Homo sapiens: one gene and its partner. The protein of the gene in region 1 purifies or fractionates together with the protein of each later gene. This does not show direct contact. Each region holds a gene or a part of one and is shown on either strand. Other genes may lie near its edges.

The links.
Region 2: the proteins of ARPC4-TTLL3 (region 1) and ARPC1A fractionate together in Homo sapiens (co-fractionation; one large-scale study listed by BioGRID). This does not show direct contact.

Annotation. Positions count from the first base shown.
Region 1 is NC_000003.12:9,816,443-9,820,257, forward strand, and holds part of ARPC4-TTLL3 (ARPC4-TTLL3 fusion protein), read left to right. Parts: intron 1-1,202; coding exon 1,203-1,317; intron 1,318-2,112; exon of another isoform or gene 2,113-2,379; coding exon of another isoform or gene 2,380-2,478; intron 2,479-3,815. Other genes in the region: tubulin monoglycylase TTLL3, read left to right, coding at 1,203-1,317, 2,380-2,478.
Region 2 is NC_000007.14:99,346,271-99,350,085, forward strand, and holds part of ARPC1A (actin-related protein 2/3 complex subunit 1A), read left to right. Parts: intron 1-2,581; coding exon 2,582-2,689; intron 2,690-3,815. UniProt on the Homo sapiens protein: Probably functions as a component of the Arp2/3 complex which is involved in regulation of actin polymerization and together with an activating nucleation-promoting factor (NPF) mediates the formation of branched actin networks.

The DNA of each region.
Region 1 (3,815 bases):
AATGATAGTGAGCAAACGGACTCTTACCTCCTAAGCAGAAGATATCTGGCTAATGGACCCATTCTGTCTTACCTGGGTTTCTTTTTTTTTTTGAGACAGAGTCTTGCTCTGTCTCCCAGGCTGGAGTGCAGTGGTGCAATCTCAGCCCACTGCAACCTCTGCCTCCCAGTTCAAGCAATTCTCCTGCCTCAGCCTCCTGAGTAGCTGGGACTACAGGTGCGTGTCACCACACCTGGCTGATTTTTGTATTTTTTAGTAGAGATGGGGTTTCACCATGTTGGTGACCTCAGGTGATCCACCTGCTTCAGCTTCCCAAAGTGCTGGGATTTCGGGCACGAGCCATCATGCGCAGCCTTACCTGGTGTTCTTAGCAAGTGACTTCACCTCTCTGAGCCTCAATTTCCTCATCTTTCAATGAGAATACCAGTAAGGCCCATCTTCTGGGGTTGTGGCAAGGATGAAGGGCTTTATAATAATGACCTGCCATTATATTATTGGTGTGGGTTAGGAAGGATTCTAGAGGAAGCAGCTCTTTTTTTATTTTTAAGAGATGAGGTCTTGCTATGCTGCCTAGGCTGGTCTTGAACTCCTGGCCTCTGGCCTCAAGCAGTCCTCCCACTTCAGCCTCCCAGAGTGCTGGGATTATAGGTGTGAGCCACCGCGCTCGGCCTTGGCAGCTCTTTAAGAATGAGAAAGGGTGGGCCGGGCACAGTGGCTCACGCCTGTAATCCCAGCACTTTGGGAGGCCGAGGCAGGCAGATCACCAGGTCAGGAGATCGAGACCATCCTGGCTAACACGGTGAAATGCCGTCTCTATTAAAAATACAACAAATTAGCTGGATGTGGTGTCGGGCGCCTGTAGTCCCAGCTACTCTGGAGGCCGAGGCAGGAGAATGGTGTGAACCCGGGAGGCAGAGCTTACAGTGAGCCGAGATCGCGCCACTGCACTCCAGCCTGGGTGACAGAGTGAGACTCCATCTCAAAAAAAAAAAGAATGTGAAAGGGGGGACAGGAGGGACATCAGGCATTCTTGGCAAAGGACACCTCCCAGGCAAATATATGGTGATAGATGTGAGCAACTCAGACCTTGCAAGCGGGGCCAAGGCTCTGAGCGCAGATCCAGTCAGAGTCTTTCTGAACTGTCTGGGTGTGTGGTGAGTGTGGGCAGTCCTGCCCTGCCCTCTCAGTGGCTAACTCCGTAGGTGGGTCTATGTCTCAATCTCCGGAATTTGCCGTGGTTTGATGAGGTTGATGCCAACTCCTTCTTCCCACGCTGCTACTGCCTGGGGGCTGAGGATGACAAAAAAGCCTTCATAGGTAAGGAGACCCCCAGCCCTATGCCTGAACCTCAGGCTGACAGAGCAGGGCTGAAGCTCTGGCTCATATTGGAGAGAAACAGGCCTCTCTTCATGCCCTCATCTGCCTGCCCCAGCAGATTTCCCTTTCCACCCTCAATCCTTATCCTTCCCTAATGTGCCCTCCCTTAATAAGCCTCTTAGCTTGGTCAACTCTGACCTCCAGAAAAGCTTGGGTAGCTTGGCTTATATTCTAGAGCAGGTTCTAAAAGTTGGTCAGTCCCTTGAGTTTGGAATCCAGAACAGATTCCAGGCTTATATCAAGTTCCATTTGTTGAATTGGGTTCCAAAAAAGGCTGCAGGCTTTGGATTTCTAAGGCAGACTAGGTTCCGATTCCACAATATGTTCTAAATTCAGGTTAGAATTTGGATCCAGATTCTATGCTAGATTTAAATTACATTCAGAATCTGAACTAGGACACAGTCTGGTTCTCAGGACAGAATAAGTATCAAAAGTAGGTGATGAACAGAAGAAACAAATCAGACAATGGGTCCAAGCCAGATTCTGAAGGCAGAATATGATCCAAGTCAGGTCAGATTTGGGGTCTGGTTACACAACTGAAACAGGAGCAAGTTCTTTTTTTTTTTTGAGACGGAGTCTCGCTCTGTCACCCAGGCTGGGGTGCAGTGGCGCGATCTTGGCTCACTGCAAGCTCCGCCTCCCAGGTTCCCGCCATTCTCCTGCCTCAGCCTCCCGAGTAGCTGGGACTACAGGCGCCCGCCATCACGCCTGGCTAATTTTTTGTATTTTTAGTAGAGACGGGGTTTCACTGTGTTAGCCAGGATGGTCTCGATCTCCTGACCTCATGATCCATCCACCTCAGCCTCCCAAAGTGCTGGGATTACAGGCGTCAGCCACCGTGACCAGCCTGAAACAGGAGCAAGTTCTAAACTCAGGCTCTAGAGTCAGAAAAGGTAGAGTCAGGTTCTGGATCCAAAATGGGGCAAGTCATGATCAGGTTCTGGAACCAGAACAGGCCTCAAGCCTAGGGGCTGAGCAGGGTATCCCCTGGCCTGGGAGCAGAGGACTTCTGGCTGACTGCTGCCCGCAACGTTCTCAAGCTGGTGGTGAAGTCTGAGTGGAAGTCATACCCTATTCAGGCAGTAGAGGAAGAGGCCTCAGGTAAGTACTGTGGTTACCTCCACTCTCCCACCCATTTATCCTCCACCCATCCGCCCTTCCACCTATCTGCCCTTCTACCTATCTATTCATCCACGCACCTACTGGTTCATCCACACATCTGTGTATGATTCACATCTACCCATCTATCCATCCATCCACCAGCCATCCATCCACTCATCCACCCACGTATTCACCCACTCTCTGATCTACCGATTCACCCACCCACCCTTCCACTCATCCTTCCATCCTCCCACCTGTCACCCATTGTTAATCTCGTCATTCATCTACCTGATGTCAGCTCCATACTCCCCATCCATCTATCCACTCCCTGCCTACCTATCCTTCCACAGATCCACCTACCCATCTATCTACCTGCTATTCCATTCTCCCATCTACTACCTATCTGTTCTTCAGGCCATCCACTCATCCATTCTTCTGTCCCAGGTACTTAGACACTTGTCTTCCCATCCGTTTGTTAGTTGATCCACTCCTCATTCAGCCCTCCCATGGGCCTGGCATGTAGCCGAGCACCCTGGAGAGGGCAGACTAAGAAGACATGGTCCGTCCCTGCCTGTGAGGAGTTCAGGTCTCTGAGGAGGAGGAAGCAGTGAAACTGGGCTTTACACATGGCCTGAGAACAGCTTAGGCCTGAACATAAGGAACAGCTTGGAGTGGAGGGGACACAGAGGAACCCTCACTATCATGCATGCCAACCCAACCACTGCCTGCCCTTTCCCTTCTGGATTTAGCTCGTGTCTCCAGGCTCCTAGTCCTGTAATCCAGGGACCCATCAGCGAGGGATTCAGGGAAGCAGAGGCAGCTCTCCAGGAAGGAGGAAAATCCCTGCCTCTTCCAGAGAGACTCCCCCATTGCTGTCTCTTGTGTGTGTCATGCACAAGGAAGGCTTGGTTGTGTGCCAGGATAAGGGGCACAAGGGCCTCGGGTGTGGCCAGAGACCCCATGCTTAAGCTTTTATGGTATAGGTCAGGCTGCAGGGGTTTGAGGGCCTCAGTTGTATATCAGAATCTTCAGAGCACTGCGATGTTCAGGGGTGAGTCAGGTCTGTAGATGTGCACGGGGTCTTCTGAAGGGTCAGTTTCTGTAATCACTTTCAGGTGTGTCAGGGCCTTGTGCAGTAACAGTGCACACAGAAGTTAGTGTTTCTGTGGGCTAAGGGTTGTAGCTCTGTATCAGGATTCTGGGAGTGGGTCTGGATTTCTGGTGTGTGGACTTAAGAAGCTGTGTCAGACTTGGGGGAGGGGCGTTCATGTATAACTGGGTTCACATAGGCCAAGACTCCCAGGTGCATTTTAGGCAGAGCCTCAGGTGTGTTAGAG
Region 2 (3,815 bases), on another chromosome or scaffold:
ATGTGAAATCAAGGCTAACAAAATGTTACCTGCTAGAAACTATTTGGAAGTTTCATTGTAATGAGATAGGAAACTAACTTCATTAATATTCTCTCAAGGCTAAACTTTATGTCAGCTGGTACTCCTTGCAATCTTACAAATTTCTACAGGAAACTTTTCTTCCAAGTTAAGCTTCAACCTCAGTAATTGTTTACATTTTTATTCGTTGAGAATTAGTGTCAAGTATAGGTAAATTGGACTTTATTATGGTACAAGGTATTGTCTTTGAACAAGCTGTATGTTTAGGGCAGTTTCTCAGCTGTAGAACAATTATTTCATATTTCATAGGAGTACTTTAAAACAACTTCTCAGAAGTTTATAATTCAGCCATATGAACTAATTATTTTGCTTGCCATCTTTTCCTTAATTAAAAAAATTACATTATAAAGGCCAGGCACGGTAGCTCACGCCTGCAATCCCAGCACTTTGCGAGGCCAAGGCAGGCGGATCACGAAGTCAAGAGTTCGAAACCATCCTGGCCAACATGGAGAAACCCCATCTCTACTAAAAATACAAAATATTAGCCAGGTGTGGTGGTGCATGCCTATAATCCCAGCTACTTGGGAGTCTGAGGCAGGAGAATCGCTTGAACCAGGGAGGTAGAGGTTGCAATGAGCCGAGACCATGCCACTGCACTCCAGCCTGGGCAACAGAGCAAGACTCTGTCTCAAAAAATATGTATACATTATGAAACAATTCGAAATACTGTCTTTTTCTCCTTTTTTAGAGACTTTGTGGGGGATTTTGGTTTTTTATTTTATTTATTTATTTATTTTTTGAGACAGGGTTTCTCTCTGTCACCCAGTCTGGAGTACAGTGGTACAAACACGGCTCACTGCAGTCTCCAACTCCTGGGATCCAGCAGTCTTGCCACTTCAGCCTCCCAAGTAGTTGGGACTACAGGTTTGCACCACCACACCTGGCTAATTTTTTGATTACTTGTGGAGACAGGTTCTCACTTTTCTTGCCCAGGCTGATCTCAAATTCCTGTACTCAAGCAATCCTTCTGCTTTGGTCTTCCAAAGTGCTGGGAGTATAGTTGCAAGCCTCTGCACCTGGCTGTCTTTTTCAGAATGAACTTCTTCAGACAGGATACTAAGAAAGTGATTCTGTAGCCAGGCGTGGTGGCTCATGCCTGTAATCCTAGCACTTTGGGAGGCTAAGGCAGGCAGATCACCTGAGACCAGGAGTTTGAGACCAGCCTGGCCAACATGGTGAAAGCTAATCTCCTCTAAAATTACAAAAATTAGCCGGGCGTGGTGGCGTGAGCCTATAATCCCAGCTATCGGGAGGCTGAGGCACAAGAATTGCTTGAACACAGGAGGCAGAGGTTGCAGTGAGCTGACATTGCGCCACTGCACTCCAGCCTGGATGACAGAGTAAGACTCTGTCTCAAAAAAATAAAAAATAAATAAATAAAAGAAAGTGATTCTTGCTTGACCCCGGGAGGTGGAGGTTGCGGTGAGCTGAGATCACGCCATTGCACTCCAGCCTGGACAACAAGAGCGAAACTCCATCTCAAAAAAAAAAAAAAAAGAAAGAAAGTGATTCTATAGAAAGGTAATTTAGCATTGAAGGAAAGGCATTGGCTCAATATTTAGTCTCCCAACTGTTGAGCAACCAGACGTGATTGGTTTTTAAACAGCAGTTTGGGGGCAGAAATGAATTAGTTAAGCCAAAATACTGACTGGTCCTAGACATAAATCATCTTTTTTGGATGGTGCTAGCGAATTAGAGGCTAATCCCCAACATGAGGTTCTTCTAATTTCTTGGTTGTGATTTTTCAGTGAAAGAAATTAAAAAGAATTTGCAGATTCGTGGAGACTTGGGAAGGATATTAAGCTGTCTTACAACCCCAAATTCACCAAAAATTCAGCAAATCACTGAATATTCATAATAAAAATTGAAGTATTTTCAAACTTCAGTTTTTATCTCAGAGGTTAACGTCCTATGTAATCCGAAATCTCACGAAAACATAACTGAGTTAATCAATATCTATGCTTACTAATGAGGACTGCTGAAAACCAGCTGTTGTGCTGAGAACATCAGGGCCAGGAGTGGAGAAGGCCTGTTCATGGTTCTTTTCCTTTCTGTCCTTTAGCAATGCACCTTGTCAGCTGGGCGTAGTGGCTCATGCCTGTAATCCCAGCACTTTGGGAGGCTGAGGCCGGTAGATCACTTGAGCCCCAGAGTTTGAGACCAGCCTGGGCAACATGGAGAAATCTCATCTCTACAAAAAATACAAAAATTAGCCAGTCTCAGATCATAACCTGGTATCAAAAAACCTTGTCTCTGGCAGAAGGCCTGGTGACCGACAGAAGAACGTTGAATGCTCTGTTACTTTTCTATAGAATCTTTTTTTATAGAAACCTATCTGAAAAAGTTTATTCTGAAAAAAATAATATTCTGAATTGTTTTATAATTTTTTTTTAAATTAAGGAAAAGTGTGGCCTACTTAGGTATTTTCACCTGACATACATTTGTAGGTCATTTGGGGATGCTGGTTGAGTGGATAAACTGAAACAGTTTTCCCCTCTCATAGGTGGGTGAGCAAGCACATTAAAAAGCCGATTCGCTCCACAGTCCTCAGCTTGGATTGGCATCCCAACAACGTTTTGCTGGCAGCAGGATCATGTGACTTCAAATGCAGGTGGGAACCAGTGAGAACTGATAAACTTGAGCCGTGCATTCTTCATCCTTCAACAAATAATTTTAGGTTCTCTTTCTTTGTTTTTTGTTTTGTTGTGGTTGTTGTTGTTTTGAGACAGGGTCTCACTCTCACCCAGGCTGGAGTGCAGTGGCACCATCATAGCTCACTGCAGCCTCCAATTCCTGGGCTCAAGCGATCCTCCAGCCTCAGCCTCCAGAGTAGTTGGGACTACAGGTATATGCCACCACACCTGGCTAATTTTTTTAAAATTGTCTTTATTCTTTGTAGAGACGGGGTCTTGCTACATTGCCCAGGTTGGTCTTGAACTCCTGGCCTCAAGTGATCCTCCCTCCTTGGCCTCCTGAAGTGCTGGGATTACAGGCATGAGCCAGTGTGCCTGGCCTGTAAGTTTCCTTTTCTTTGCAAGGTACTGCGCTAGGCACTGTGAGGGACTCAAAAATGAGGCCTGGTGCTGTGGCTCACACCTGTAATCCCAGCACTTTGGGAGGCTGAGGTGGGCGGATCACCTGAGGTTGGAAGTTCAAGACCAACTTGGCCAACATGGTGAAACCCCGTGTCTACTAAAAATACAAAAGAGGCCGGGCGCAGTAGCTCACGCCCGTAATCCCAGCACTTTGGGAGGCTGAGGTGGGCGGATCACAAGGTCAGGAGATCGAGACCATCCTGGCTAACACAGTGAAACCCCGTCTCTACTAAAAAAATACAAAAAATTAGCCGGGCGTGGTGGCGGGTGCCTGTAGTCCCAGCTACTCGGGAGGCTGAGGCAGGAGAATGGTGTGAACTCGGGAGGCGGAGCTTGCAGTGAGCCGAGATCACACCACTGCACTCCAGCCTGGGCGACAGAGCGAGACTCTGTCTCAAAATAAATAAATAAATAAAAGTTAGCCTGGTGTGGTCACAAATGCCTGTAATCCCAGCTACTTGGGAGGCTAGGGCATGAGAATCATTTGAACCGGGGAGGTGGAGGTTGCAGTGAGCTGAAATCACACCACTGCACTCCAGCCTGGGCGACAGAGTAAGACTCCATCTCAAAAAACAAACAAAAACAAAACAAAAAAATGGAAGCAGTTTGTGATCCAGAAAAGGAGCTCAAGCATGGTGATTA